Homo sapiens: one gene and its partners. The protein of the gene in region 1 interacts with the protein of each later gene in a pairwise test. Each region holds a gene or a part of one and is shown on either strand. Other genes may lie near its edges.

Region 1 (7,900 bases):
AGATGGCATCCTCTTTGCCAGGTCACACAGAGTTAATGGAGACAGACTCGACTTCCAGTCTGCACTTGGCTGAAAATTGAACTGGTGCACCTTTGGCCAGCTGCTTAACTCCATTTGGCCTTTACTTCCTCATTTGCAAATTGAGGGTGATATGTGCTGCCTTGTCTACCTCAGAGTTGATAATGAGGATCCAATGTGATGGGAGACAGGGAAATGAAAGATGCATTATACAAATCAGGCTGCTCTTAACATGTACTTCTTCAGGTTGGGATTTGTTGTTGTTGTTGTTGTTTTTGTTGTTGTTGGCTTCAATCTGGGGTTCACACTATGCTCCATATACCTCAAGGTGCTTCAGGGGTCACTGTGGAGTCAAGTGGGCTGGTTGCTGGGCCCCAAAATCCATTTCAGCCAGAGCTGTTTAGCTTTTATCAGTTTTACTTACTAGAGTTCTGAGTAGGGCTGAATTTGAAAAACATGTTTCTGCTATTGAGAAAAGAGATAGGAAACCAATGACTTAGACGAATAAACGACATCCTAATTGTCAACCAAATAGAACACAATGAGCTATTCTTAAAATAAAGGCGGTGTGCTGGTGGAGTCAGATAACTCTGGTTTCAGATTCCATTTCAGCCCCATGCCATTTGAAGAATTTGTTACTCTTTAATTTATCTAAACTTTGGTTTCCTCATCTGCCAAATGGAGATTAATACTATACATTTTGTAGGGTTGTTGGAATGATTAAATGGGATATTTAAACATTTATGGTAATAATTCAGATTTGTAAAAATTCCTTGCAATTCAGATGTGATCATTTCTTTAAGCTCTACAATTATTGCATGAGGTAGGTACTCTTTTAAACTTTCCATCTCTTTTTACTTTTTATTATGCAAATTTTCAAACACATAGAATAATAATATGGTGAATATCTATGTGTCTATCACTGAGTTTCAATAATTATCACATTGTGCCATTCTGGTTTCAATTGCTACCTCCACCCCTCCATTTATAAGTGAAATTACTTTTACAGATAACGTGGCTGAGGTTTGGAGGGGTTAATTTCTTTGCCCAAGCTCCTACAGTTAGGAAGTAGTAGAGTTTCAGAAATGAAACCCAAGACCGCCTTGGCCCTGAGGCAATAATGTCGGCTGTCCTGTCTTAGAATCTGGGGCATCTTTGAATAGTCAAAATAGTTGGGAGTCCCATATACTGAATGATCACACACAGAGTGAAAAGCCAGGGAGCTGTTCTTACTATTTCTAGAATGCCTTCAGGTGCACAAGATATCTCTCAGCTGGTCTTTCTGCTGCTTAATTTGTAGACCTGGTTTTGGTGGTGTTTTCTTGTATTGTGGTAGATAGGTAAGTGCATTCTACAATTCTTTTTGGCCAGAATTTGTTTTTCTTGACTCTGCACCTATTTATCATAGGAACCTAGACATTTCAAATTTGAAAGAGATTTTTGAAGCCATCTTCCGCTGCTCGAATCCCCTCCTTACTGTCCCTGCCAAGTGGTGCACTTGTACCACTTGGTACAGTTTATCAGATGGGGAGCTTACCACTTCCCTTTGCTGCCCCTTCCCTTGCTATGAACCCCCTCAAAATACCTTTTGCTTTCTATCACTGAAATATGTCTCTATCAAACTAATTCCCATTGATCTGGATTCTGCCCTTAGTACTCCAAGCCAAATCTATGTCTTTTTTCTTTCGATACCCCTTTGGATAGTGAAAGACAGCAAGACAGCAACAATATTCCTCCCAGAATGTTTTTGTCTCTATAAGCTAACCACCTCTGGTTTTCTAAGTTTCTCCCCATGTGCCAATTTGGTTAGTTTCCTGTCCACACTGTTGGTCCTTGTGGCAGTGTAACTTTGAAAGCCAAGTACAATAATCCAGGGGTGATCCAATCCATGCAGATTTGATCCTCCCTGTCTGCATTCTGTTTCCTGTTAATGACAACCAATACTACACTCACTTTTTTCCCCAAGTCGACTTTCACTCTGTGGACACATTTTCAATCTCTTAATTCATTCATTCAATTATTCATTCAACAGATATTTATTAAACATCTACTATATGCTAGAACTGTGTGAGAAACTAGGGGGATGGAGCTGTGAACTCCATTAATCCCTGCCTTCCTAGAGCTCACATTCTAGTATAGGAGAAAAAAGAAGCAAGTAAATACAAAAGCTATGATATCTTCAGAATGTGAAAAGAATGGTATTCCCAGTGGAGGAGACCCATAAGAAACACACAAAAATAAACAAGATAATTTCAGTGACAACTGTGATAATGGAAATAGAGCAGAGGGAAGTGATAGGAAGAGCTCCTTTAGTCTGGGTGTCAAGGAAGGCTTCTCTGAGGAGATGTGATTATCTGGGCTGAGACCTGGGTTCTAAGAAGGAGCCAGTCAAGGGAAGTTCTGGAAAGAACATTTGGGCAAAATGGAGAGCAAGGGCCAGGCATGGTGGCTAAAGCCTGCAATCCCAACACTTTGGGAGGCTGAGGTGGGCAGAACGCTTGAGCCCAGGAGTTCAAGACCAGCCTGGGCAACATGGCAAGACCTCATCTCTACAAAAAATACAAAAATTAGCTGGGCATGGTGGCACACACCTGTAGTTCTAGCTACTCGGGAGGGTGAAGCGAAAGGAACACTTGAGCTCAGGAAAGTCGAGGCTGCAATGAGCCAAGATTGCACTACTGCACTCCAGCCTGGGCGACAGAGTGAGACCCTGTCTCAAAACAAAACCAAAAGGAAAAGCAAATGCAAAGACTGTGAGGTGGGAGTGAGCTTTGAGAGGGACAGCGAGACGGGAGAGTCAGGAGGGATGGGGACATGGCCATGGTATAAGTATAACAGAGACAGGCAGGCAAGGCCTCAGGAGGCCTGGAGGATCACTGCGGGGAGTTCAGATTTTATTCCACATGTTATGGAACACTTTTGCAGGTTTTTAGGAAGGGGTGTGACATGAACAGATTCACTAATGTTTGAATCTCTGTCCAGCTTCTGTGTGGAGATGGTTTGTAAGTGTGTGGGAGAGGAAGTGGGAGGCCTCTGGGAAGATACTGTCAGAGTCCAGGGGAGGCCTAATGGTGGCAGTGGCTGGGTAGGAGTGACTGCAGTAGGGATGGAAAAAGTGGAGGATTCAACTGTGTGTTTTAAGATGAGCCAATGGACCTACTCATGATTTGGGTACACAAACAGACACATTGAGGCTCATGCTCTGCTTCACGCACGAGTTCACTTGACAAACAAGGATGGGGGCATGCATCACTATCAATGTGACTGGGGTGTTGAGACCGAACACTGGCAAACTCAAGGTGGGGAGTGTAGGGCCTCAGAGCAAAGGATTCCAACCTGTGGCCCATGGGGTCTCTGAAGTAATTCCCCAAATGCTGAGAGCTGGGAGGATGTCTTTCCGGCAAAAGGGTGTAGAGAAGCTTTCCTCAGATTTTCAAAGAGGTGTTGACCCCTCCAAGAGGAGAAAACACTAGCCAAGAGCATTAGACTCCAAAGATCTCCAGAGCTGGTTTCTAGTCTAAGACATCAGCCTGAGTTCCATGTCTGAGTCTTGTCTTTATCACTCCCATCACCAAGTTTCAAGCTTTCAAAATAATAATGATAATAAAAGAGGCTATGTATTCCAAGCTTGAGCCCCTGGTTGGACGGTGTGCCATTTACAAAGGTGGGGAAGAAATGGGGAGCAATGGGTTTTGGGGGAGAAATCAATAGTTCTGTCTAGTGCTGATTTAACTCCAAAATCTGGTTCAGTTATCTTTTAGTTAGTCTTAAGTTTGGGCTTAGAGAATTGTGGCAAGCCACTTATTCAAGGATTACTTATTCATTCATTCCCCTAATCTCTAAAACTTCAAAGCCTCAGAATGAGGTCTTTGGATTTGCTGTTGACTCCGTTGCCCTAACTACAGAATGACATTTGTTCATTTCTTCATTCATGAATTCATTCAACAAACACAATTGCCTTCGCAGTACCAGGCTGTATGATGGGTCCCAGGGACACAGAGATAAGCAGAACAGAAGCCTTTCCTCAAAGAGCTCCCAGTCTAGTGGGTGGCATGAACACAGATACATCTGACAACAATGACATTCAACAAATATTGCCAGGTGCGGTGGCTTATGCCTATAATCCCAGCACTTTGGGAGGCCGAGGTGGGTGGATCACTTGAGGTCAGGAGTTTTGAGATCAGCCTGGCTAACATGGTAAAACCCTGTCTCTACTAAAAATACAAAAATCAGCTGAGCGTGGTGGCAGGTGCCTATAATCCCAGCTACTCAGGAGGCTGAGGCAGAAGAATTGATTGAACCCAGGAGGCAGAGGTTGCAGTGAGCCGAGATTGTGCCATTGCACTCCAGTCTGGGTAACAAGAGCAAAACTCCGTCTCAAAAAAAAAAAAAAATTAGTATGCACCTATTACTGAAATGTCTGAAAAAAATACAATGGTGGAAAAGCTGGGGACAGTCTCTGACCTCCTTTATGAACTTTCAACATCTTGCAAAAGGCAGATCACAACACACTATAGTAAGTGTTCTGGTGATGAAGTGCCAGTGCCATGGAAGCGCACTGAGGGGACACATGACTGAACATTGTACTTGACTACTGGACTGGGCTTGGTACTTAGGGAAGTCTTCCTCTGAGGGAAGCAATCTGAAGCAGCAACAGATGAGACCCCTGCACTGTGTGATGAAAGATGCGGGTGTAGTCCGCAGGTAGCAGGGATGTCATGATTAATAACTGCAAAGGTTTCCATAGTTATGTCCCCCAGCTAGGTCTTGAGAAGAGAGAAAGAACAGCCTATGGAAAGAGCCCAGCAGCAGGCGCAGGGAAAGATGAGAAGTTACATGGGAGTGAAGTGTAGCATGTGTTAGTGACCGGGAGAAGGTGGCTCGAGCTTGCTGGGTGTGGTTGGCTTCCCTGGATGCTTCCAGGCCCTCTGTCAGCACCCAAGACTTTCCCATTTACCTGTCATAACAAACTTGGTCTGCAGAGTGGAAAGGCTTTGGTGAGCATTATTCCAAGCCAGACTCAGGTAGGGAGATAAATCTACTGAAATAAAAGAAATCTGTTTAAGCATTTTTTGAAAAACAGAAGTGGTTTATTGATTGGCAGCTTTCTGAGGCTATTTGTTGCAAGAAGGAAGAAGGCTTTTTTGCACTTATTTTGGTAAACTTTCACTGTTGGCTTCCATTGGCCAGTTCTCCACACTGGTGAGCAAGTGATATTTGGGAATCCACTCGGCTTCCTTGCTTGAATGGCTCTCCCAACAAACATCTCTTTGTGCTACTGTTATTTAAACAATTAGGTGAACCCGACTTCTCTGGAAAAGTTGCTTGGAATACATAGCCTCTTTTGTTTTTTTTGGTTTTTTTTTTAGCATTATTCTTTAAAAAGCTTGAAACCTGGTGATGGGAGTGATAAAGACAAGACTCAGATACGGAAACTCAGGCTGATGTCTCAGACTAGAAGCCAGCTCTGAAGATCTTTGGAGTCTAATCTCAACTAGTGTTTTCTCCTCTTGGAGGGGTCAATACCTCTTTGAAAATCTGAGAAAAAGCTTCTGTGCAGCTTTTGTCTGAAACACATCCTCACATCTCTCAGTATTTGGGAATGATTTCAGAGACCCCGTGGGCCACAAGTTGGAACCCTTTGCTCTGAGACCCAACCCTTAAGCAAGTGTCTCCCTCTCTCTTTATTTTACTTTATTTTTAAATTTATTTTTATTTTTTAGATGGAGTCTCGCTCTGTCACCCAGGCTGGAGTGCAGTGGCGCGATCTTGGCTCACTGCAACCTCCACCTCCCGGGTTCAAGCAATTCTCCTGCCTCAGCCTCCCAAGTAGCTGAGATTACAGGCATGCACCTCCATGCCTGGCTAATTTTTGTATTTTTAGTAGAGACAGGGTTTCACCATATTAGTCAGTCTGGTCTCGGACTCCTGATCTCAGGTGATCCACCTGGCTTGGCCTCTCAAAGTGCTGGGATTATAGGCGTGAGCCCTTGCACCCAGCCTTTCCCTCTCTTGAGCTTCCCAATGCTGGGTCTCAGCACCCCAGTCCCATTGACACTGATGCACCCCTGTTCTTGTTTGTCAAGTGAGCTAGTGCTGGCAGACACTGGCTCTTCCCTCCTCCAGCCTGCCACACGTCCTGGCAGTCCCCCTTCATGATGGCCTTTGGTGCCTTGCCTCCCTGCTCGTCTCTCCTCTGCCACCCTCACCACATCTCTTCTCACTGCATTGGGTGCCTTTCCCTCCAGGATGCCCTCCACCCTTCACCAATTTCATCTTCTGAAGCAGGTCAACAGCACTGCTCAGACATCTCTCATGGCTCGCCTTGTCCTCTGGCCCCTTGGGCCTGGTTTTCAGGGGTCTCTGTAGTGGCCCTGCCTCCATCTCTAGATGCACGTCTTGCTGGTCTCCTGCACATGCTCTATAAACCAACAAGAGCTACCAGCAGGTGCATGTCACCTTGCCTTTGCTCATGTTATTCCACTACCAGGAATGCCCTTCTCCCATATCTCTGTCTATCTAAATCTTATCCATCCTTAAGGACCTAGAATAAGTGTGTTGTCCTCTGAATTCTTTGTTGCTCACATCATTCAACATTTTTCTTTCTCTTTTTCCCACATTCCTCTTTTTAATTGAAATAAACAACTATGTCCCACCTCTTTCCTAAGTGTTTTAAGGTGGCCCAGATAACAAAAAATAAGGAGACAGGTGGATTAGAGTTCCAGCACACTTTCTAGCTGTAAGCAAGTTCCCCAAACTTTCTGTGCCCTATTTTCCTCATCTGAAAAAATGGGAAAAGTCACAGCGACTATTTCAAGGGATTACTATGGAAGCAAATGAAATGATATATGTAGAGCTCACACAGCACTGGGAATAAGAGAAGGACTCGATGTTCATCATCATCATCACCATTCCACCATCATCATTGTCATTATCATGGATAAAATAACAGGACATGATTGATATGGGACAAGGAGATATATATGCCAGGAAACTTAGGCTGAAGGGAAACTGCTCAACTGATAACAGCATCTGGTTTGAGATTCTTGGCAGCCAGGGCATAAAGGGAGATCATAGCATTCGGTTTTCATAACTCATATTGTCTTCTAAGAGAAAGCAGAAGGGGTCATCATAAGAGACAAATGCTTCCCCAGCTCTGAGAGCTACATGGGATAGATCTTTTGAGGACGATAGAATGGAAGAATCTGTTTAAAATCAGCTCTCTTCTTGACCATTGGCCAGAGGGAAGGACACAGCCCCTTAATCGGGGCTATCAGCCCAGTTCCAGTGTGGGATTCTGATGAGGTGGTGGGCACCTGGCACATATCGTGTGCTGCCTTGTGGCAACAATTCCTCTTCCGCTACTGCACTATGGGCTTCTTAAGGGCAAGGTCTGTGTCTTACTCATCTTTGTCTCCCCAGTGCCCAGCTGAGTTCCTGGCACTTGGTGGCTATGCAGTGGGTATGAATAAATAAGGAAGTGAATGGTGAATAAGCCATAAAACTGCCACCACCCAGAGGTAGCCAGGATCGAAGCAAGGGGTCACGGTCATCAGAGGAAGCACAGAATATCAATAGCTCAAGACATTGCAGGTTTTTTCCTCCTTCTGTCTTAGGCTGCAGAAAACAGAACTAACATTTTCTTGAGTACTTTATAGGTGCCAGGCTCTATATTTTCATTTTCTGCTTTATTTCACTATCTTAGCAACCCTTCCCAGTAAAAGGTCAATATTACTCCCATTTTATAGATGAGAAAGGTGAGGCTCAGAGAGGTTAAGCAAGTTGCCCAAGGTCATCCAGCTCAGAGGAAGCAGAGCACGGATAAGAGTTTGATGTGGCTTCAAGGCTTGAGTTCTACCCGGAACCATGGGCCCTTCCGAAT
Region 2 (8,840 bases), 6.2 Mb from region 1:
GATCAAGTGGGCTTCATCCCTGGGATGCAAGGCTGGTTCAATATACGCAAATCAATAAATGTAATCCAGCATATAAACAGAACCAAAGACAAAAACCACATGATTATCTCAATAGATGCAGAAAAAGCCTTTGACAAAATTCAACAACCCTTCATGCTAAAAACTCTCAATAAATTAGGTATTGATGGGACGTATTTCAAAATAATAAGAGCTATCTATGACAAACCCATAGCCAATATCATACTGAATGGGCAAAAACTGGAAGCATTCCCTTTGAAAACTGGCACAAGACAGGGATGCCCTCTCTCACCACTCCTATTCAACATAGTGTTGGAAGTTCTGGCCAGGGCAATTAGGCAGGAGAAGGAAATAAAGGGTATTCAATTAGGAAAAGAGGAAGTCAAATTGTCCCTGTTTGCAGATGACATGATTGTATATCTAGAAAACCCCATTGTCTCAGCCCAAAATCTCCTTAAGCTGATAAGCAACTTCAGCAAAGTCTCAGGATACAAAATCAATGTACAAAAATCACAAGCATTCTTATACACCAACAACAGACAAACAGAGAGCCAAATCATGAGTGAACTCCCATTCACAATTGCTTCAAAGAGAATAAAATACCTAGGAATCCAACTTACAAGGGATGTGAAGGACCTCTTCAAGGAGAACTACAAACCACTGCTCAAGGAAATAAAAGAGGATACAAACAAATGGAAGAACATTCCATGCTCATGGGTAGGAAGAATCAATATTGTGAAAATGGCCATACTGCCCAAGGTAATTTACAGATTCAATGCCATCCCCATCAAGCTACCAATGACTTTCTTCACAGAATTGGAAAAAACTACTTTAAAGTTCATATGGAACCAAAAAAGAGCCCACATCGCCAAGTCAATCCTAAGCCAAAAGAACAAAGCTGGAGGCATCACACTACCTGACTTCAAACTTTACTACAAGGCTACAATAACCAAAACAGCATGGTACTGGTACCAAAACAGAGATATAGATCAATGGAACAGAACAGAGCCCTCAGAAATAACGCCGCATACCTACAACTGTCTGATCTTTGACAAACCTGAGAAAAACAAGAAATGGGGAAAGGATTCCCTATTTAATAAATGGTGCTGGGAAAACTGGCTAGCCATATGTAGAAAGCTGAAACTGGATCCCTTCCTTACACCTTATACAAAAATCAATTCAAGATGGATTAAAGATTTAAACGTTAGACCTAAAACCATAAAAACCCTAGAAGAAAACCTAGGCATTACCATTCAGAACATAGGCATGGGCAAGGACTTCATGTCCAAAACACCAAAAGCAATGGCAACAAAAGACAAAATTGACAAATGGGATCTAATTAAACTAAAGAGCTTCTGCACAGCAAAAGAAACTACCATCAGAGTGAACAGGCAACCTACAAAATGGGAGAAAATTTTCGCAACCTACTCATCTGACAAAGGGCTAATATCCAGAATCTACAATGAACTCAACCAAATTTACAAGAAAAAAACAAACAACCCCATCAAAAAGTGGGCAAAGGACATGAACAGACACTTCTCAAAAGAAGACATTTATGCAGCCAAAAAACACATGAAAAAATGCTCATCATCACTGGCCATCAGAGAAATGCAAATCAAAACCACAATGAGATACCATCTCACACCAGTTAGAATGGCAATCATTAAAAAGTCAGGAAACAACAGGTGCTGGAGAGGATGTGGAGAAATAGGAACACTTTTACATTGTTGGTGGGACTGTAAACTAGTTCAACCATTGTGGAAGTCAGTGTGGCGATTCCTCAGGGATCTAGAACTAGAAATACCATTTGACCCAGCCATCCCATTACTGGGTATATACCCAAATGACTATAAATCATGCTGCTATAAAGACACATGCACACGTATGTTTATTGCGGCATTATTCACAATAGCAAAGACTTGGAACCAACCCAAATGTCCAACAATGATAGACTGGATTAAGAAAATGTGGCACATATACACCATGGAATACTATGCAGCCATAAAAAATGATGAGTTCATGTCCTTTGTAGGGACATGGATGAAATTGGAAATCATCATTCTTAGTAAACTATCACAAGAACAAAAAACCAAACACCGCATATTCTCACTCATAGGTGGGAATTGAACAATGAGATCACATGGACACAGGAAGGGGAATATCACACTCTGGGGACTGTGGTGGGGTAGGGGGAGGGGGGAGGGATAGCATTGGGAGATATACCTAATGCTAGATGACGAGTTAGTGGGTGCAGCGCACCAGCATGGCACATGTATACATATGTAACTAACCTGCACAATGTGCACATGTACCCTAAAACTTAAAGTATAATAAAAAAAAAAAAAAAAGAAAAGAAAATTCTATAACTGGCCAGGCGCGGTGGCTCATGCCAGTAATCCTAGTACTTTGGGAGGCTGAGGTGGGCGGGTCACGAGGTCAGGAGATTGAGACCATCCTGGCTAACAGGGTGAAACCCTGCCTCTATTAAAATACAAAAAATTAGCCAGGAGTGGTGGCACGTGCCTGTAGTCCTAGCTACTTGGGAGGCTGAGGCAGGAGAATTGCTTGAACCTGGGAGGCGGAGGTTGCAGTGAGCCGAGATCGCACCACTGCACTCCAGCCTGGCGACAGAGCGAGACTCGGTCTCAAAAAAAAAAATTTTATAACTAATGTGGAAACAGTTTTATGATAAGATAACATGTGCATGATGGAACAGAGTGAACATTTTTGCAAGACTAGTCAAAGCAAAATTCAAGACTTCAAAAAAAAAAATGTGTACTTGGGAGGAGCAGTTTGCTTTGTTTATATCCTCAGACCCTGGGCTATGCACTCACTTTACTCTGCTATTAGTAATGATAATAAAAAGAGCTAATACTTGATGTATCTGCTAGGATAGGCTAGCTTATACAGTGGTAAACAAACAAAACTCAATGGCAACACAATGCTTATTTCTTGCTTATGCTAAGTTATCCTCTATGGGCTGGCAGAGAGCTCTTGTTTATCAGCTACACAGAAATCCAGGCTAATAGAGCAACCAACATCTTCAGCATCAATAGTTGCCATGCCAGAGGGAAAGAGAAGCACAAGAGGCTCAAAGCAACAAATAAATGCTTCAGAGACAAAGTAATCCATCCTTTCTGCTCAAACTCATTGGTCTTTCCCAATCACTTGAAGGCCAGGAAATAAAATCCTACCATGTGCTCAGAAGGCAAAACGCCAGAAATATTTAGTGAAGAGCGCTAATTGTCTATCATTCACTATCTACCAAGGGCTGTTCTAATTATATTACAGGCATTATCTCAGCTAAGCCTCATAATAATCTTGTGAAATAGGTACTATTAATGTTATCATCATTCCCATTCTATAGATGAAATAACTGAGGCACCAAGAGGCTAAGTAACCTGCTCAAAGTCACACAGATAATAGGTGGTAAAAGCTGAAGATTTAAACTTAAGCATTCTTGCCCCAGAGTCTGTGTGCTTAACCACAAAGCCATGAGATCTCTCACTAGGTGGGAACAATTTGAGAAACACTGCCATAGGCAATGGAGAGCCACTAAAGGATTTTTTAAGCAGGAAGTGTGAGTCCATCAGAATTGGCATTTAAAAGCTCCCTCTAGAGAGCACGGTGAAGGATTAATTTAACCAGATTTAGACTAAGGCAGGAAGGCTATTTGCAGAGTGAGGAGATGAAGATGGGGAGGGCTTGAACTAAGGTACAATCACCACTCACCGCAATTAACTGGGTTTTGTTGTTGTTGTTGTTGTTTGAGACAGGGTAACGGGGTACATTGGGGGTTGGAGGGGTGGTTCTTACTGTGTTGCCCAGGCTGGATTCCAACTCCTGGGCTCAAGTGATGCTCTGGCTCTGGCATCCTGAGTAGCTAGGACTACAGGTATGTGCCACCACACCCAGTAACTAGTTAATCTTGACTGTCTATTTCAACTGAAAAATGGTTATGGTAATACCTACTTGGATGGGTTTTCTGAGGAAAAACACCCCAATGAACTTGTGTGTTTTTAAAAGTCAAGTCCCCTAGGCATGGCTAGAAGGGAAGAGGCTTAGCCAGAAAATTTAATTGTTGTGATTAATAAAGTAATAGAAATGTTTAGTTTTCCTCTGATGAGATGAAAGCTTTGAGGGGATCCTGGTCTTGGGAGAAAGTAAAGAAATGGAGGAGAGGGTTTCACCAGAGTTTAGATAACTCTTAGCATCTGCTTACTATCTTCCCTGATTAATTATTTCCATGGCAGCCAGAGTGACCTTTTAAAACCACAAATCGGATCATGCTGTTTCCCTCTCCCCTAGTACAGTGCCTGATACTTAGAAATTTCTCAGTAACATCGTGCTCAGTGAATGAATGAATGAATGAGTGAATGAAAACACAAGCCAGATGGCAGGTGGATCCCTAAGGAAAAGGACAGCCAATGAGAAATTATCTGTAGCAACGGTGGCTTTGGATGATGATGTTTAATAATCATTTTTAAGGAGTTGCCTGTTGTGTGCTATGCTTTAATCACTGTCCCCCACCCTTCCCAAATAACGTTCAGTAAAAGTCTGCCACAAAAAACTCGCTGTTTTGTGAGAATTTAAGAAATGGAAGAAGAAACAAACTGTCTGGGCACCAGGCCAAACAATATCCAAAAAGGCAGGAGTCACAGAGGAGAGCTAATGAGTATTAGTGGGAGCAGGTATTCCAAGTGAGAGGTGACCAGAGTCCTCTGAAAATGTGGGGAGGGGGTGACGTTCCTATATCCTGGGTTAGGGGCTTGGACTCTTATATTTGGCTGTTGGAAAAAACAAGCTGGAGGACTTTGGGGTATCAACAACCCTCAGGTTACATAAGGATGATCATAGGGTCGTTGTGAGGATTATGTTGGGATAGTTCATGCAAAGCGCTTAACACAGTGCCTAGCGCATAGTAAGAGCTCAGTAAATGTTAGTTGTTGTCTTCCTTCACTTTCTTCCATTCCCTCCACTCCCTTTCTACCAGGCTCCATTCATTCTCTTCCAAGGACACGCAGGGGGCGTGCCCACCCCTTCCCTCCGCCCCCACCCAAGGCCCGCCCCCCGCTTCTCCACGGATTGGTTCCCGAGAGGCGGAGCTGAAGGAAGAGCCCAGTGCGGCGCGGTGGGGGCGGGGCGCATGCGCGAGCTGGGCAGGGTGGAGGTGGGGAGGAAGAGCTGCCGGAAGTAGGCGGTGGAGGTGGTAGCGGAGCTGACGGCAGCTGCCAGGGAAACCGAGGCGCGGGACGCAAGGCCAGCAGACAGGCCGGCCAGAGGGTCATCTGCGTCCGGCACCCAGGAGGCTCGTGGTCCGCCTTTGCCTGGGCTGAGGGTCTCTGGCCCCGCAGCCTCTCTTGGAGGCGGGCCTGTCCCTAAGCCCGCCAAGGGGCGCCGCGCCGAGGGGCTGCGGAGTGGGGGACGGACGCCCCCGACCCGGGAAGGGGCGTCCGGCGGGGCCGGAGGAGAGGGCTCTCCCCGCTCAGGAGGTGCCCCTGGGCGGGGGACCGGGAGTCCTCAACCCCGGACTGAGGCAGGGGTCTCTGGGGGCGAGGAGGGCGCGTCGCCCTCTGCCCCCGCCGGCACCCTGGCCATGACAGGCAAGTCGGTGAAGGACGTGGATCGGTACCAGGCTGTCCTGGCCAACCTGCTGCTGGAGGAGGATAACAAGTTTTGTGCAGATTGCCAGTCTAAAGGTAGCGCATCCCACCTGGCGGGCCAGGGGTCCAGCCGCGCCGGGGTGGTGGGGGTGGGCTGCGTGAAGAGGCGGTTTCTGAAGCTTAGGCCGCCCAACTCGGCTTATAAGTGGTAACGCGTGCTGCGCTTGCAGTGAGCCTACTGGGCTTTCTGCAGCTGGGGGATTGGTATGGGTAGAGCTTGCGAGGGCGAGTCTGTGTGTGTCGGGGAGGGTGGAGGTGATGGTGCGGGTGGAAGTTGCCTGGCGTGTTCAGGTGAGAATGTCTGTATTTGAGGGCTCTGAATGAGTTCTGGGCCGGCTGTCCAGAGAGAGCTCCCAGCATGTCACTTGCAAAGCTGGGGATGAACTGCATTGCGTGCGTGCGTGCGTGCGTGTGTGTGTGTGTGTGTGTGTGTGTGTGAGAGAGAGAGAGAGAGAATGACGAGGAGGAGGAGGAGGGAAGTGAGATGGCGGAAAGGAAAACTGCTTAAATGATTTTTAAAGGTGGTGATTTTTGCTTCCTGCTATTTGGTTAGCAACTCCTGTCATTTTGCAGCCTTGCTAAGATCTGACAAGAGTGCTTAGGTGACTTTATTCTTCTGGATGTGTGCAGTGGGAAACTGCCTTATGCAGTGACACAGTGCGGATTTCTAGGCAGTGTAGCCCTGGCTTGTAGAGTGCGTTGGAGGCCTATGTATGAGTGGTGGCAGAAACTAGCCGATTATGCCTGTAGTGCAGGATCCGTTTAATCAGTGGAGAGAGAAAGATGAATTCGATGAATTCATTGCTTCCATGGCGATTACACTTCTAAAGGTGAAATATGATCATTGTAAATTGGCAGAACCATTTAGTCTTTGTTTTCTGTGCCCTAGAAGATTCATGATTTGATACAATTAAAAGTCAGTACAATAGGAAATCTTGGTTATTAGTGAAATGTTGGCACTTGACATTTATACAAGCTTCTATGAATCTTTTTTTCCTGTATTTTCTAATTCTTTTGGCATATAATTGGAGGATTGGGAAAATTATTTTCCCTTTGGTTGGGTCGAAATGGATAGTTATATTTTGGGGGCGACAATTTACTTTTGTTCATAATGCAGTGGATTTGCCATGGTTGTTTGCCGTACAGCGTAGTGGGCATATACTATAAAACAAAGATTCAGTTATATTCGTATTTATCTATTTTGAGAAAGGAAGGACATATTTAATTGATGCTTTCACTTAATTACCTTTTATTTTTGAAGAATAAGGTTATAAAAGGAGAACAGGGGAGGGATACATAGACACCTAGTAATGTATTTTAGTGACCTCTACCAACAGATAAATGGAATGTGCCATTAGGAAAACAAATTCCTAGACTTCTTTCCTGAATTTTTGCATTAGCAATAATTCATTTTAAAAAGTATTTTAGAATCAATTTATGTTGAGTAGGTTAGCTTCTTGATTCTTGTTACATCTTCTGTTAGGTCTATTGGAAGATTTGGTTTATTTTAGGAGTGTATCTTGGCTTTATTCAAATTCCCTTATGTCCTCATTTGACAGATCTTGAGTCACAGTGAAGCAACCCACTGGAGTGAGCATTGCTGCATTTGGAGAGTCAGATGCCATTTTGGTGACTAGAACCCCCCCCCCCATTTCTCATATTACCCTTATACTTACTCATATTCCAATAAAATACAGCACATGGAAGAGAGAGGCTGATTCACTACTTCTTCCTCCAAATTTCCATTGCTTTTTATTTATTTTATTTTTTATTTTTATTTTTTGAGACAGTTTCGCTTTGTCGCCCAGGCTGGAGTGCAATGGTGCAATCTCGGCTCACTGCAACCTCTGCCTCCCGGGTTCAAGTGATTCTCCTGCCTCAGCCTCCCGAGTACCTGGGATTACAGGCGCCCGCCACCATGCCCAGCTGATTTTTGTATTTTTAGTAGAGACAGGGTTTCACCATGTTGGCCAGGCTGGTCTTGAACTCCTGACCTCAGGTGATCCACCCGCCTCAGCCTTCCAAAGTGCTGGGATTACAGGTGTGAGCCACCATGCCCAGCCCGAAATTTCCGTTGCTTTTTATTAATAAGCTTACTGGGGATCAGGTTATGAAATATCAGTTAATTCTTAATGAGAACTAGTAACTGCTGGCTTGTAAACTTTATTAACTACTGTTGATGGTAGAATCCTGGATCCTCAATTTCTTTTCAGAAGTTCGTTTTACATTTTACCAGGTGGCTTCAGGGACTTGGTCATTGTATTAAAAATGAGATGACAATGGGTCAGTCATCTTTAGATTATGACAAATAGGCATTTGTTGAGGCCTCTGTTTATCCAATTTATGAATTACCTATCCCATTCCACCCCTCCAAGCCCTCTCACTCTTTTTCCCCTGCTGTTTTCTAATTTTGGTTGTCATAATGATCATTTGGACAACTATCAGATTGTTGAAGGAAAAGACGTTTGGATCAATAAATTGTTACCTGTTAGCGCTGATAAAAAATACATTTCATTGGAGGAGGAATTTAAAAAGTGTTGGCTAAAATGAGAATTGGGTTTCAGTTTATTTACCTGTATTCCTGTGTCCTTTCCTAAAAAATTGGAAGTTAACTGTACAGGATATGGTGAGTGATTGCTCATCTATTAATATCCAGTTAGATGATGTGGCATAGACTATCGACCTATGAGCAGGTATTTTTGCAATGTTCCAAAATATAACTCTTTGGCAATGACTTTTATTTTTAAATTCTTATACTTATTTAGGAACATTTATTAGTTGACTTTCAAGGTATGTGATTTAAACTTCGGAATAGAGGCTGGGTGTGGTGGCTCAAACCTGTAATCCCAGCACTTTGAGAGGCCAAGGAGGGAGGATCACTTGAGTCCAGGAGTTCAAGACCAGCCTGGGCAACATAGTGTGACCTTGTCTCTACAAATAGTTAAAAAATTAGCTGGGTGTGGTGTTGTGCATCTGTGGTCCCAGCTACTCAGGAGGCTGAGGCAGGAGGATCACCTGGGCAACTGAGCCCAGGAGGTCGAAGCTGCAGTGGGCCATGATTGAGTGCCACTGCGCTGCAGCCTGGGTCAGAGAGCAAGACCCTGTCTCTAAAACAAAACACAACAAATAAACATCAGAATAGAGAACAAGCTTGTGTTC
Region 3 (7,900 bases), on another chromosome or scaffold:
CTTTGACGGCAAGAACCGCGGCTACGCCTTCGTCATGTACTGCCACAAGCACGAGGCCAAGCGCGCAGTGCGTGAGCTCAACAACTACGAGATCCGCCCGGGCCGCCTGCTCGGCGTGTGCTGCAGCGTGGACAACTGCCGCCTCTTCATCGGCGGGATCCCCAAGATGAAGAAGCGCGAGGAAATCCTGGAGGAGATTGCCAAGGTCACCGAGGGCGTGCTGGACGTGATCGTCTACGCCAGCGCGGCCGACAAGATGAAGAACCGCGGCTTCGCCTTCGTGGAGTACGAGAGCCACCGCGCGGCTGCCATGGCTCGCCGCAAGCTCATGCCTGGCCGCATCCAGCTGTGGGGCCACCAGATCGCCGTGGACTGGGCCGAACCTGAGATCGACGTGGACGAGGACGTGATGGAGACCGTGAAGATCCTCTACGTGCGCAACCTCATGATCGAGACCACCGAGGACACCATCAAGAAGAGCTTCGGCCAGTTCAACCCCGGCTGCGTGGAGCGCGTCAAGAAGATCCGCGACTACGCCTTCGTGCACTTCACCAGCCGCGAGGATGCCGTGCATGCCATGAACAACCTCAACGGCACTGAGCTGGAGGGCTCGTGCCTGGAGGTCACGCTGGCCAAGCCCGTGGACAAGGAGCAGTACTCGCGCTACCAGAAGGCAGCCAGGGGCGGCGGCGCGGCTGAGGCAGCGCAGCAGCCCAGCTACGTGTACTCCTGCGACCCCTACACACTGGCCTACTACGGCTACCCCTACAACGCGCTCATTGGGCCCAACAGGGACTACTTTGTGAAAGGTTAGTGGGGGCTCTTCTCCTGGGTGGGGCCCCCAAGAACGTTGCCTCCTAGGCAGGGGGCACCAGGGATACCGTGGCTGGCATTTGCTGAGCTGGTAGGTGCTGAAGGCCCTCCCACCCCCGTTTTGGGTTTGCATTCTGGGTCTAATTCTTTCCTGGCACCGAAGGCCGTCACTTATGCAGCACTGATAGAAATACAGATCGTTCTGGGGTGAGCGGTAAAATCACAGGAATATGCAAGTGCTGGAATTCTTCCTTGCCGAGGTCCACCGGGTTAGGGGCTAGTCCACCATTCTCTTGGTGCTTACGTTAAAACCTGCTTGTGATATTAAATCTTAAGATGTTGGTGGAGTCCGTGATTTTTAATTTTGTTTTTTGTTATCACTGATTAGGATATAATGACACCCAGCATAACCTGGAAAATAAGATACATAGGTTCTGGGTCCTGTTCTCTGATTAACTGGGTCTGTGACTTTAGTTAGTCACTTTAATCTCCCCTGGCCTGTTTTCTCAAGCATGAAATGAGGAAGGTGGACCAGCAAATCCCCTTCCAAAGCTAACTTTAAAAAAAATTATTTAATAGTATATATATATGTATTATATATATATATATGTATTTTATATATATATATGTATTTTATATATATATATATGTATTTTATATATATATATATATATATTTTTTTTTTTTTTTTTTGAGACAGGGTCTCACCATGCTCCCCAGGCTGGTCTTGAACCCCTGGGCTCAAGCCATCCTCTCGCCTCAGCCTCCCAAAGTGCTGGGATTACAGGCATAAGACACCACACCTGGCCACAGTTTTTTTTTTGGCGGGGGGGAGGGGGTGGTGGGTAGTCTATGAATGTTTTTCTTTACTGAAATTGCAGATACAATCCTAGAAACTCACCCTGCAAGTTTGCCTCTTGTACTAAGAAGACATGCTTAGGATGCAAATCTAGGCTGAAATAGAATGTTGGAAGCATCTTTACCAGCCTATTAAAGAGCAAAGGTGTAGCCACCTGCAATTAAGACTGGGGCAGTTAAATGCCGAGAACCGAGGGCTGAGGTCTGCCTCCAGCACCGTCACTGTTGGTTGCTGATCATCTTTTGTGTTGTTATTACAAGCAGGCAGCATAAGAGGCCGAGGGCGAGGTGCAGCTGGCAACAGAGCCCCAGGGCCTAGGGGTTCCTACCTCGGGGGATATTCTGCTGGTCGTGGTATATATAGCCGATATCATGAAGGGAAAGGAAAGCAGCAAGAAAAAGGATATGAACTGGTGCCGAATTTGGAAATCCCTACCGTCAACCCAGTTGCCATTAAACCTGGTACAGGTCAGTATGAAGCAGATTGAGAATGCTCCCATTCAGCATAAACCCCAGCCCTTCTGTTTGAAGTGAATCCAAGCGTTTTTCAGGCTCTCACATCTGCACAGGGGTTCCTCTTCTCCTAGGCAGCTAGAGACAAGGCAAAAATAAAGTGACCCCCTGGACCTCCTTATCTAGAACTTCAGGGGATGGTGTAGCTTTGACTATGTTCAAATCAAACTTGCCTGAGTAAGGTTTTTTTTTGTTTGTTTGTTTGTTTGTTTTTTTTTTTTTTTGAGACAGAGTCTCGCTCTGTCGCCCAGGCTGGAGTGCAGTGGCATGATCTTGGCTCACTGCAAGCTCTGCCTCCTGGGTGCACACCATTCTCCTATCTCAGCCTCCAGAATAGCTGGGACTACAGGTGCCCACCACCATGCCCGGCTAATTTTTTTTTTTTTTTTTTTTGTATTTTTAGTAGAGATGGGGTTTCACCGTGTTAGCCAGGATGGTCTCGATCTCCTGACCTTATGATCCACCCGTCTCGGCCTCCCAAAGTGCTGGGATTAGAGGAGTGAGCCACTGCGCCTGGCCATGCAGTAAGGTTTTCAAAGGGCTGTCACCCATTGTTAGGTTTTGTCTCAGTCTGTGGCTAAGTAAGGAGAGTTGTAGGGGGAAGAAAGGAAGAACATGAGGCTCTCTGTATCTTCTATCAGGTAAAACCTGTCTTTTCCTTACTCAGGCCTATTTCTGCCCCGACCATCTGAAGTCGGAGGGTAGAGCTTATTGCCCCATTCTGAGAGTTGTTTGGAAGGGCAGAAAATTCCCCTTCAGGAGTAAGCAGCACCTTTTGTCCCTTGTCATGGTCTGAGCAAATAAGAATGCTTGAGGACAAGGCAGTGGTGAAAGTTTTGTTGTTGTTTGAGATGGAGTCTTGCTGTGTCACCCGGGCTGGAGTGCAGTGGCATGATCTCGGCACACTGCAACCTCCACCTCCCGGGTTAAGCGATTCTCCTGCCTCAACCTCCCGAGTAGCTGGAACTACAGGCGCGCACCACCATGCCTGGCTAATTTTTGTATATTTAGTAGAGATGGGGTTTCACCACATTGCCCAGGCTGTTCTCGAACTCCTGACCTCAAGTGAGCCACCCGCCTGAGCCTCCCAAAGTGCTGGGATTACAGGCATGAGCCACTGCACCTGGCCTTTGCTGAAAATTTTTGCAGCTAATTCCCTGGTTTCTCATTTCCAGCACTCATTTCCTCCTCTAGTTGGATCAGTAGATTGGGAGTAGGGATGCTCAAGTATTTCAAGCCAGGGACCCTGAACTTAGCCTTCACCTCCAGGCCCTACAAACCTGTTTATTAATGTCATTAGTGCCCATGACCATCTAATGTGAGGCCGGTCTTCTGATCCGAACCTGCAAAAAACATTAACTCCATTGTGTGAGTCTATCACAAACTCACGTAGCACCCTGCAGAAGCATCCAAACACATGGAAAGCTCAGTCCGTGGGTAATTGGCACGACCCTCCTCCAGACCCCTCCTGGCTTCAGCAGGAGGAAGTTGAAGAACTGTTTGGAGCCCAGCTACTCTGATTTTCTTCTGGTTGAGATTGTACACTTCTCTCCCTAGCTAAAATAGAGTCAAGGAATCTGTGCATTTGGGACATAGGTACACATTGGCCTCATAGAGTTAAAAAGCATTTCCCCAATTGAACTTTCTTTTGATGATTCTAGTAATGATTTTTTTTTTTTTTTTTTTTTTTTTGCCTGTGTAAAAATTCTGCAATTTCTGCAGTTAAGTGACTCCTTAGACTAGATTGCCTTTTAAATGTCATTGGCACTGTGGGCAAAGTAAAACTGATCCCACAGCTCTGTAACTTAATAAAATAGAGCCTGGATATGGGAGTCGTCGCTTCTACTTGTTGAGAAGGGAACTCCCTTTGGCAAGTTACGGTAGCTTAAGGTTTAACAAGAGAAAAGAACTGTTAAATAATCTTTAACTATGTAAAGTTGTGTCCTGGAGCCTGAGGTAGAAATTCCTGTGGGCTGATAGCCAGAACAATTCATTTACTTCATACAACCCCTTGTAGCTTAAACTCACAACCCTCTCTGGGCCCCATCGATTGGCGTCTATTTCTGATCATCCAGAAAATGAGAACATTGTATTTTAGGAGAGGCACCAGGGTGGTGGTGAAGTATCTGGGCACAAGACCAGTGGAAGATATGGTTGGAAAGGCAGGTAAAAGATTTGATTAAGGTTTTAGGTATATTTTATCGAATGGCTGTACCATTGTTTAGCTTACAATCATTTGTCTCTTTACCTTTGATTGAGTCTGTCCTATTTAGAATAAATGTACCTACAGTTGGAGAAAACCAGAAATAGAAAGATTCTTTGTGTACACATTTCATATTTTTGTTTGTCCTTTCAACACACACACACACACACACACACACACACACACACACCCCCGCCCCACACACACACACTCACACAAAAGGGCTGATATCTTTTCCTTTTGATCTCTTCTTACTGTACCTTGACATTCAATAGCTGCTGTTTGAATCTCTGGTTGAAATCATAATTTTGGACTTTACTTGCAGAAATTCTTTGAATTGGGAGGTCCCACTAAAAGCCAATCACTCCACATCTTCACTACTTTGCGTGGGCATGAGGAAACTGGGGAATGTGCTATTTTTTTTTACCATGTGTTTTTCCTTGAATCGGTAATGTTGAAATCTGAAATACAGGGTGGGGAGGATGTACACAGGTCTGAGTTCTCAGAATGAAACCCTCAACAGCACCTGTTTCTTAAATAGTGGTGAAAGTGAAAAAAAGGCAGTGCGGCTGGTAATGAGTGAGGTGAGTAGGAAGGAACAGGCAGGCCCAACTCTCACAGGCAGTAGGCTTCAAGCCTCTGATCTCACTTCTTCGTCTAAGCCTGTTTTCCCATAGTCAGAGGCCCTTTCTTGCTCAGTAGGACATCAAGAATAACATTCAAACTGTGATTTTTCTGTAGAAATAGTAGAAAATATTGGTGCAAAAGCCTTACTCTAGGGGTCTCTTCCACAACAGGCAGGGGGAGTTACCTGCCACCACCCATCCCTTCCTCTAGGGAGCAGGCATCTGGGTACATGGCTTGTACTGAGAGAACAATAGTGAGCATGGAGAGGCCCAGGACCTCTAAACGTGGTTTTAAAAAATATCTTAGGCTGGGCGCGGTGGCTCACACCTGTAATCCCAGCACTTTGGGAGGCCAAGGCAGTTGGATCGCTTGAGCTCAGGAGTTCAAGACCAGCCTGGGCAACGTGGCGAAACCCTGTCTCTACAACAGCAAAAACAAAAAGCTGGGCAAGGTGGCCTGTACCTGTAGTCCCAGCTACTCAGGAGGCTGAGGTGGGAGGATCTCTTGAGGCCAAGAGATTGAGGCTGCAGTGAGCCTTGATCGCACCACTGCATTCCAGCCTGGGCCACAGAGTGAGACCCTGTCTCAAAAAAAAGAAAAGTTTTTAAAAAAATAAAAATAAAAAATATCTTAGAGCAAGTGCTGGACCCCACTCAGCGACTGAAAGTGATTGACCTGTTTTTCCTTCTTGCTTCTCTTGCAGTAGCCATCCCTGCCATTGGGGCTCAGTATTCCATGTTTCCAGCAGCTCCAGCCCCTAAAATGATTGAAGATGGCAAAATCCACACAGTGGAGCACATGATCAGCCCCATTGCTGTGCAGCCAGACCCAGCCAGTGCTGCTGCCGCCGCAGCCGCGGCCGCAGCCGCCGCAGCCGCTGTCATTCCCACTGTGTCGACGCCACCACCTTTCCAGGTAGAGTTCTTATTGCAGGCATTGTCATTTGTGTGTGAAGCCTCTCTTTAACATGGATTCATTTAGTATTCAGCACTGAGAATTTACTGTGTGCCTGGCTCTCTGTTACAGCTATGGTTGGGTGACACAAAGCATTTTGAATTTGAAGCATGACAGAAAAAAAAATTTTTAATTAATTGTACTACCCTAATAATATCATTGTATTAAGGGTGGTAATCAATATGCAAAAATTATGTGTAATTTTTCACAGTGTCATAATATTGTGCATATATTTTTTTAAAATAGCACTGGATAATTTTTAGCTCATATTGTTAAAGAGCTGACACACAAAGTCCAGGGAGTGATTTCACATTTTCACATTTCAAACTGCAGCTCAATGAAGATTTTTTAAAAAAATGTTAACCCCCGTGTGTGTGTGTGTGTGTGTGTGTGTGTGTGTGTGTGTGTAAAGAGAGAGAGAGAGAGAAAGAACATCTGTATAGATACGTAAAATTTTGTGCTGGGTACAGTGGCTCATGCCTGTAATCCCAGCACATAGGGAGGCCAAGATGGGAGGATCACTTGAGGCCAGGAGTTCAGGACCAGCCTGGGCAACATGGTGAGACACTGTCTCTACAATTTTTTTTTTTTAAATTAGCCTGGCATGGTGGCATATGCCTGTAGTCCCAGCTACTGGGGAGGCTGAGGCAGGAGGACCACTTGACCAGCCTTGAGGTCAAGGCTGCAGTGATCTGTGATTGCACTACTGCACTCCAGCCTGGGCAACAGAGTGAGACCCTGTCTCAAAAATAAATTTACAAAATATGCCCATAATCCTCTCTTCCAACCATATCTCCCACTGTTCCCCTATCTCTTCCCAAACTCATCTTACCATGTTGGCCTCCTTCCCCACCTTTTTCATAGTGTATCCTGGTTTCTTTATTCTCATCTCTTCCATAGAATCTTTCCCATCCACCTCCTAGATAAATTTTCTCTCTCTTTTTTTTTTTTTTTTAGACGGAGTCTCGCTCTGTCGCCCAGGCTGGAGCGCAGTGGCGCCATCTCGGCTCACTGCAAGCTCCGCCTCCCAGGTTCACGCCATTCTCCTGCCTCAGCCTCCCGAGTAGCTGGGACTACAGGCGCACGCCACCATGCCCGGCTAATTTTTTGTATTTTTAGTAGAGACGGGGTTTCACCGTGTCAGCCAGGATAGTCTCAATCTCCTGACCTCGTGATCCGCCCACCTTGGCCTCCCAAAGTGCTGGGATTACAGGCGTGAGCCACCGCGCCCGGCCATGAAATTTTCTCTCTTGTACTCCTGATTACTACATCATTACTTGGCCTATGGCTGCCAGTGTGTTCTATCTCCCAAGGAAAATGAAGCTCCTACAGACCAAAGACTGTGTCCTGTTTCTTTGTATCTTCACCTTATAGGACATAGGGAGGACATCCATTTAACAGAAGAAAATCTTGTTAAAGCTGTTTTCTGTGAGGCAGTGAATCATGAATACCGATCACAAGTACTCAGGCCCAGGATCCCTTATCCAATTGAAAAAGAATTATCCAGGCCACTTTTTTTGATTTTTGATTTTTGATTTTTTTGAGACAGTCTCACTCTGTCACCCAGGCTGGAGTGCATGGCTCACTGCAACCTCAACCTCCCTGGTTCAAGCAATCCTCCCACCTCAGCCTCCCAAGTAGTTGGGACCACAAACACGCACCACCATGCCCGGCTAACTTTTTTATTTGTAGGGACAAAGTCTTGCTATGTTGCCCAAGCTGGTATTGAACTCCTGGGCTCAAGCGATCCTCCCACCTCAAGCTCCCCAAGTGCTGGGATTACAGGCATGAGCCGTTGCCTACATTTTTTAAAAAACAGAGATTCTTAGACTCTAATCCCTGAAGATTCCAATTCGGTCAAACTGGGCTGGAGTCCTAGAATTGATATTTTGCACAGCTCCTCAATGATTCTGAAACAGAGCCAGGCCTGTG
Region 4 (7,830 bases), on another chromosome or scaffold:
TTTGTCAATTTTGGCTTTTGTTGCCATGGCTTTTGGTGTTTTAGACATGAAGTCCTTGCCCATGCCTATGTCTTGAATGGTATTGCCTAGGTTTTCTTCTAGGGTTTTTATGGTTTTACGTCTAACATGTAAGTCTTTAATCCATCTTGAATTAATTCTTGTGTAAGGTGTAAGGAAGGGATCCAGTTTCAGCTTTCTACATATGGCTAGCCAGTTTTCCCAGCACCATTTATTAAATAGGGAATCCTTTCCCCATTGCTTGTTTTTCTCAGGCTTGTCAAAGATCAGATAGTTGTAGATATGTGGCATTATTTCTGAGGGCTCTGTTCTGTTCCATTGGTCTCTATCTCTGTTTTGGTACCAGTACCATGCTGTTTTGGTTACTGTAGCCTTGTAGTATAGTTTGAAGTCAGGTAGCGTGATGCCTCCAGCTTTGTTCTTTTGGCTTAGGATTGACTTGGCGATGCGGGCTCTTTTTTGGTTCCATATGAACTTTAAAGTAGTTTCTTCCAATTCTGTGAAGAAAGTCATTGGTAGCTTGATGGGGATGGCATTGAATCTGTAAATTACCTTGGGCAGTATGGCCATTTTCACGATATTGATTCTTCCTACCCATGAGCATGGAATGTTCTTCCATTTGTTTGTATCCTCTTTTATTTCGTTGAGCAGTGGTTTGTAGTTCTCCTTGAAGAGGTCCTTCACATCCCTTGTAAGTTGGATTCCTAGGTATTTTATTCTCTTTGAAGCAATTGTGAATGGGAGTTCACTCATGATTTGGCTCTCTGTTTGTCTGTTGTTGGTGTATAAGAATGCTTGTGATTTTTGTACATTGATTTTGTATCCTGAGACTTTGCTGAAGTTGCTTATCAGCCTAAGGAGATTTTGGGCTGAGACAATGGGGTTTTCTAGATATACAATCATGTCGTCTGCAAACAGGGACAATTTGACTTCCTCTTTTCCTAATTGAATACCCTTTATTTCCTTCTCCTGCCTAATTGCCCTGGCCAGAACTTCCAACACTATGTTGAATAGGAGTGGTGAGAGAGGGCATCCCCGTCTTGTGCCAGTTTTCAAAGGGAATGCTTCCAGTTTTTGCCCATTCAGTATGATATTGGCTGTGGGTTTGTCATAGATAGCTCTTATTATTTTGAAATACGTCCCATCAATACCTAATTTATTGAGAGTTTTTAGCATGAAGGGTTGTTGAATTTTGTCAAAGGCTTTTTCTGCATCTATTCAGATAATCATGTGGTTTTTGTCTTTGGCTCTGTTTATATGCTGGATTACATTTATTGATTTGCGTATATTGAACCAGTCTTGCATCCCAGGGATGAAGCCCACTTGATCATGGTGGATAAGCTTTTTGATGTGCTGCTGGATTCATTTTGCCAGTATTTTATTGAGGATTTTTGCATCAATGTTCATCAAGGATATTGGTCTAAAATTCTCTTTTTTTGTTGTGTCTCTTCCTGGCTTTGGTATCAGAATGATGCTGGCCTCATAAAATGAGTTAGGGAGGATTCCCTCTTTTTCTATTGATTGGAATAGTTTCAGAAGGAATGGTACCAGTTGTTCCTTGTACCTCTGGTAGAATTCAGCTGTGAATCCATCTGGTCCTGGACTCTTTTTGGTTGGTAAGCTATTGATTATTGCCACAATTTCAGCTCCTGTTATTGGTCTATTCAGAGATTCAACTTCTTCCTGGTTTAGTCTTGGGAGAGTGTATGTGTCGAGAAATTTATCCATTTCTTCTAGATTTTCTAGTTTATTTGCGTAGAGGTGTTTGTAGTATTCTCTGATGGTAGTTTGTATTTCTGTGGGCTCGGTGGTGATATCCCCTTTATCATTTTTTATTGCGTCTATTTGATTCTTCTCTCTTTTTTTCTTTATTAGTCTTGCTAGCGGTCTATCAATTTTGTTGATCCTTTCAAAAAACCAGCTCCTGGATTCATTAATTTTTTGAAGGGTTTTTTGTGTCTCTATTTCCTTCAGTTCTGCTCTTAGTTATTTCTTGCCTTCTGCTAGCTTTTGAATGTGTTTGCTCTTGCTTTTCTAGTTCTTTTAATTGTGAGGTTAGGGTGTCAATTTTGTATCTTTCCTGCTTTCTCTTGTGGGCATTTAGTGCTATAAATTTCTCTCTACACACTGCTTTGAATGCGTCCCAGAGATTCTGGTATGTTGTGTCTTTGCTCTCGTTGGTTTCAAAGAACATCTTTATTTCTGCCTTCATTTTGTTATGTACCCAGTAGTCATTCAGGAGCAGGTTGTTCAGTTTCCATGTATTTGAGCAGTTTTGAGTGAGATTCTTAATCCTGAGTTCTAGTTTGATTGCACTGTGGTCTGAGAGATAGTTTGTTATAATTTCTGTTCTTTTACATTTGCTGAGGAGAGCTTTACTTCCAACTATGTGGTCAATTTTGGAATAGGTGTGGTGTGGTGCTGAAAAAAATGTATATTCTGTTGATTTGGGGTGGAGAGTTCTGTAGATGTCTGTTAGGTCTGCTTGGTGCAGAGCTGAGTTCAATTCCTGGGTATCCTTGTTGACTTTCTGTCTCGTTGATCTGTCTAATGTTGACAGTGGGGTGTTAAAGTCTCCCATTATTAATGTGTGGGAGTCTAAGTCTCTTTGTAGGTCACTCAGGACTTGCTTTATGAATCTTGGTGCTCCTGTATTGGGTGCATATATATTTAGGATAGTTAGCTCTTCTTGTTGAACTGATCCCTTTACCATTATGTAATGGCCTTCTTTGTCTCTTTTGATCTTTGTTGGTTTAAAGTCTGTTTTATCCAAGACCAGGATTGCAACCCCTGCCTTTTTTTGTTTTCCATTGGCTTGGTAGGTCTTCCTCCATCCTTTTATTTTGAGCCTATGTGTGTCTCTGCAAGTGAGGTGGGTTTCCTGAATACAGCACACTGATGGGTCTTGACTCTTTATCCAATTTGCCAGTCTGTGTCTTTTAATTGGAGCATTTAGTCCATTTACATTTAAAGTTAATATTGTTATGTGTGAATTTGATCCTGTCATTATGATGTTAGCTGGTTATTTTTCTCATTAGTTGATGCAGTTTCTTCCTAGTCTCGATGGTCTTTACATTTTGGCATGATTTTGCAGCGGCTGGTACCGGTTGTTCCTTTCCATGTTTAGTGCTTCCTTTAGGAGCTCTTGTAAGGCAGGCCTGGTGGTGACAAAATCTCTCAGCATTTGCTTGTCTGTAAAAGATTTTATTTCTCCTTCACTTATGAAGCTTAGTTTGGCTGGATATGAAATTCTGGGTTGAAAATTCTTTTCTTTAAGAATGTTGAATATTGGCCCCCACTCTCTTCTGGCTTGTAGGGTTTCTGCCGAGAGATCCGCTGTTAGTCTGATGGGCTTCCCTTTGAGGGTAACCCGACCTTTCTCTCTGGCTGCCCTCAACATTTTTTCCTTCATTTCAACTTTGGTGAATCTGACAATTATGTGTCTTGGAGTTGCTCTTCTCGAGGAGTATCTTTGTGGCGTTCTCTGTATTTCCTGAATCTGAACGTTGGCCTGCCTTGCTAGATTGGGGAAGTTCTCCTGGATAATATCCTGCAGAGTGTTTTCCAACTTGGTTCCATTCTCCCCATCACTTTCAGGTACACCAGTCAGACGTAGATTTGGTCTTTTCACATAGTCCCATATTTCTTGGAGGCTTTGCTCATTTCTTTTTATTCTTTTTTCTCTAAACTTCCCTTCTCGCTTCATTTCATTCATTTCATCTTCCATCGCTGATACCCTTTCTTCCAGTTGATCGCATTGGCTCCTGAGGCTTCTTCATTCTTCACGTAGTTCTCGAGCCTTGGTTTTCAGCTCCATCAGCTCCTTTAAGCACTTCTCTGTATTGGTTATTCTAGTTATACATTCTTCTAAATTTTTTTCAAAGTTTTCAACTTCTTTGCCTTTGGTTTGAATGTCCTCCCGTAGCTCAGAGTAATTTGATCGTCTGAAGCCTTCTTCTCTCAGCTCGTCAAAGTCATTCCCCATCCAGCTTTGTTCTGTTGCTGGTGAGGAACTGCGTTCCTTTGGAGGAGGAGAGACACTCTGCTTTTTAGAGTTTCCAGTTTTTCTGTTCTGTTTTTTCCCCATCTTTGTGGTTTTATCTACTTTTGGTCTTTGATGATGGTGATGTACAGATGGGTTTTTGGTGTGGATGTCCTTTCTGTTTGTTAGTTTTCCTTCTAACAGAGAGGACCCTCAGCTGCAGGTCTGTTGGAATACCCTGCCCTGTGAGGTGTCAGTGTGCCCCTGGTGGGGGGTGCCTCCCAGTTAGGCTGCTTGGGGGTCAGGGGTCAGGGACCCACTTGAGGAGGCAGTCTGCCCGTTCTCAGATCTCCAGCTGCATGCTGGGAAAACCACTGCTCTCTTCAAAGCTGTCAGACAGGGACATTTAAGTCTGCAGAGGTTACTGATCTTTTTGTTTGTCTGTGCCCTGCCCCCAGAGGTGGAGCCTACAGAGGCAGGCAGGCCTCCTTGAGCTGTGCTGGGCTCCACCCAGTTGGAGCTTCCCAGCTGCTTTGTTTACCTAATCAAGCCTGGGCAATGGCGGGCGCCCCTCCCCCAGCCTCGCTGCCGCCTTGCAGTTAGAGCTCAGACTGCTGTGCTAGCAATCAGCGAGACTCCGTGGGCGTAGGACCCTCCGAGCCAGGTGCGAGATATAATCTCGTGGTGCGCCGTTTTTTAAGCCCGTCGGAAAAGCGCAGTAGTGACCCGATTTTCCAGGTGCCGTCCATCACCCCTTTCTTTGACTCAGAAAGGGAACTCCCTGACCCCTTGCGCTTCCCAAGTGAGGCAATGCCTCGCCCTGCTTCAGCTTGCGCACGGTGCACGCACCCACTGACCTGCGCCCACTGTCTGGCACTCCCTAGTGAGATGAACCCGGTACCTCAGATGGAAATGCAGAAATCACCCGTCTTCTGCGTCGCTCACGCTGGGAGCTGTAGACCGGAGCTGTTCCTATTCGGCCATCTTGGCTCCTCCCCTGGACAGCGTTCTAAATAGCCTCCTGCCAAAAATACTATTCCCCTTTTAAAAACAAGTTTTTAAGACCCACCTAATAGAAGGAAATGTTGTAACTCGTAATCTGTGCTGACCCATCCCTCATTTTATTTACTCAACATTTATACTGTAACACTAGACTAGAGATTGTCTAATATAGATTCTAAGCTCTCAGAGAGCAGGTTTTCCTGAGTTCTGGAGCCCTCCTAAATTGCTAGCCTCTCACTTTGTAACATTCTAATTTAATTGGTACCAAGGTTCTGCAAATATTTAGTGAATGTTGATTGATGGTCTGTACTCATCTGTTCTAACTTATCTTTTTTTTTCCATTCAGTCTTCCTGATCTATATTTTCTCTTTACTTAACAGACAGTGTGGAGCATTCATTATTAAGACAATTGGGCAGCTCTATTCCAGCTCAACTGATTTCTTGTCCAATGATCCTTGCGTGGCCGAGATCCAGCTTCAACGAACCAGCTAGAAGCTGCCCGTTGTGAAACTTAGTGTTAGTTAATACCTCACCATACTCAGTTATTCCACTATAAGCTGTCTAAATTTGATGAAATTTGCTTTTTCAGCTGTTCTACAAAATTATTTAGGTAGATGTGGCATGTTGGTTTTTTATGTGCTAACCTAACTGTAATGACCTTTTCTACAACATGTTTTATCCATTCCATAAATAATAACCACATTGGGAATAGTGAGGTGTCTTTTATTTTCTCTGCTTTGTGTTATTTTTTCTTATCAAACAATTAGATGTTATGTTTCATATTATTTGATATTTATTTTCATATTTAGGATAAGAATCATTTTTAATTATAATACTTTTAATACTTTCATATATTTTACAACAGTATACTATTTAATATTAATGACAATTCTATTTTTGCTTTGCTGTTTTGTCATTTAATATGCTTTTGTCTAATTTTTAATTCATTTATTACTGTTACTCCTTATTTAATTTTGCGTCTGCCATGGTTTTCAGAATCTGAATAGTATTTATACTTCTTTTTTATAACATTTTCCAAATATTAGAAATACCATCAACATGATCAGTATTCTTGCCTTTTCATGTAATTTGACTATATTAAATTTTTTCTCCAGTGTTTGAGACAATATTGAAATCTTCCTATAACATAATTTATTTGGTATCAAATTTTATAAAATATGGATCCACCTTTGGAATTTTGATAAAAGGGTTCATCTCTGACATGATCCCATAACACTGACTGAAATTCCACCAAATTACTGTTCTTTGAATGCTTTAATCCTTAAACCTTTTCTTCTGATATGCAACCAATATATTCAATTATATATGTGATTAATTTTTAAAAGGACAATTGTTTTCATAAAATGCAAAACTATTTTTTACACCAAAGGAAAATTTTAGATTCTGATTCTAAATCCGATTTTTACTATAAAATTGGAAAATAGATGGGAGGGGTGTCATTCATTGTTCAAAAGGTACAGAACAAATCATAGGGGTTTTTAATCTCTAAAATTTCTACAGTAGTACAGGAAATATTCCTCTTTACATTCATTTGCAGTTCTTTCACTGACCTCCTAATTTTAGGTGGAGGGGGCAGGGGGAGCCATAAAAGTTGGTATTACCCTAATAAATCTATCTCTTTCCTCCCCTGTTTCAACCCCACATGTATTCCATGCTCAGCAGCAGCAGCAGAAATAGTAGGATATAGATCACAAAGGTTTTTCTGGTGAGTCAAATAGGGTGTTTTCTTTTGAAACTGTAATGAATATGTTTGCCAGTCAAATGGCTTCATGAGAACAGTAGAACCTTATGAATGTATACTAGCATACAAGGATCTCAAATACATTAATTATTCTCAGTTTTAGGAATGTAAATAGATTAAGTCCCACAATGAAATTTCAGAAGTTTTTGTTCTGTAAGTAAAAAATTACTAACCACTGATGTTCAAGATTTTCTTTTAATAGCACTATCCTTGAGAACCAAAAAGTTTATGTTTTGATTTTCAAATGTTAAACAAGATGCTAAACAAATCCTGGACTGTTAATAAAAATTAATTATGTATTATTGGATAAGGAATTTTGATGATAATTGATACCCAAGTGTGTTTCTTCCACAACTATATAGATTATATGCATACACATATATACATGTTTATATGCATATATACACACACATATATAATTTATACATATGCACTTTCTTAGAATTTAGCTTTATTTTGAGAAGCTACTAAAAATTTTGGGAGTTTGACAATCTGAATAAATGGAGGATATCATACAGCCTTCTTCATGGCCTAGCTTAATAGCCCAAACATGTTACTTTTTTTTTTTTTTTTTTTTTTTTTAAGAGACTGTCTTGCTCTGGGGCCCAGGTTGGAATGCAGTTATGCGATCATGGCTCACTGTGACCTCAAACTCCTGGGCTTAAGCCATCCTTTCACCTCAGCCTCCCTAGTAGCTAGGATTACAGGCATGCACCACCACACCCAGCTAATTTTTTATTTTTTGTAGAGACAGGGTCTTACTAGGTTCCCCAAGCTGGTCTCAAACTCCTGGGCTCAAGTGATCTTCCTACTTTGGCCATCCAAAGTGCTGAGATTACAGGCGTGAGCCATTGTACCCAGCCCCACACATGTTACTTCTAAAAACAGATAGATTGAGAGACAAAAATTCTCCTTACATATACTAAGTAAAGCCCATTTTATTTATTTCTATTTTGTAGTATATCTCTGATAATTTTGAAAATTAAGGTTTTACTTAGGACCCATTTTGAAAGGCAAATCTGAAGAAATTATCTGAAATTCACTGGGTGTTAGAATAAAATGGATA

What was found.
Region 2: the proteins of C1orf94 (region 1) and SMAP2 interact in binary tests that used the Homo sapiens proteins (3 or more experiments, as listed by UniProt).
Region 3: the proteins of C1orf94 (region 1) and RBM47 interact in binary tests that used the Homo sapiens proteins (3 or more experiments, as listed by UniProt).
Region 4: the proteins of C1orf94 (region 1) and BOLL interact in binary tests that used the Homo sapiens proteins (3 or more experiments, as listed by UniProt).

What each region holds. Positions count from the first base shown.
Region 1 is NC_000001.11:34,179,460-34,187,359, forward strand, and holds part of C1orf94 (uncharacterized protein C1orf94), read left to right. Parts: intron 1-7,900.
Region 2 is NC_000001.11:40,368,507-40,377,346, forward strand, and holds the start of SMAP2 (stromal membrane-associated protein 2), read left to right. Parts: upstream 1-5,220; 5' UTR 5,221-5,614; coding exon 5,615-5,717; intron 5,718-6,126; exon of another isoform or gene 6,127-6,189; coding exon of another isoform or gene 6,190-6,202; intron 6,203-7,240; exon of another isoform or gene 7,241-7,310; intron 7,311-8,840.
Region 3 is NC_000004.12:40,430,680-40,438,579, reverse strand, and holds part of RBM47 (RNA-binding protein 47), read left to right. Parts: coding exon 1-809; intron 810-1,932; coding exon 1,933-2,139; intron 2,140-5,717; coding exon 5,718-5,929; intron 5,930-7,900. UniProt on the Homo sapiens protein: Single-stranded RNA-binding protein that functions in a variety of RNA processes, including alternative splicing, RNA stabilization, and RNA editing. Functions as an enzyme-substrate adapter for the cytidine deaminase APOBEC1.
Region 4 is NC_000002.12:197,726,131-197,733,960, reverse strand, and holds the end of BOLL (protein boule-like), read left to right. Parts: intron 1-5,382; coding exon 5,383-5,406; coding exon of another isoform or gene 5,407-5,494; 3' UTR 5,495-7,071; downstream 7,072-7,830. UniProt on the Homo sapiens protein: Probable RNA-binding protein, which may be required during spermatogenesis. May act by binding to the 3'-UTR of mRNAs and regulating their translation.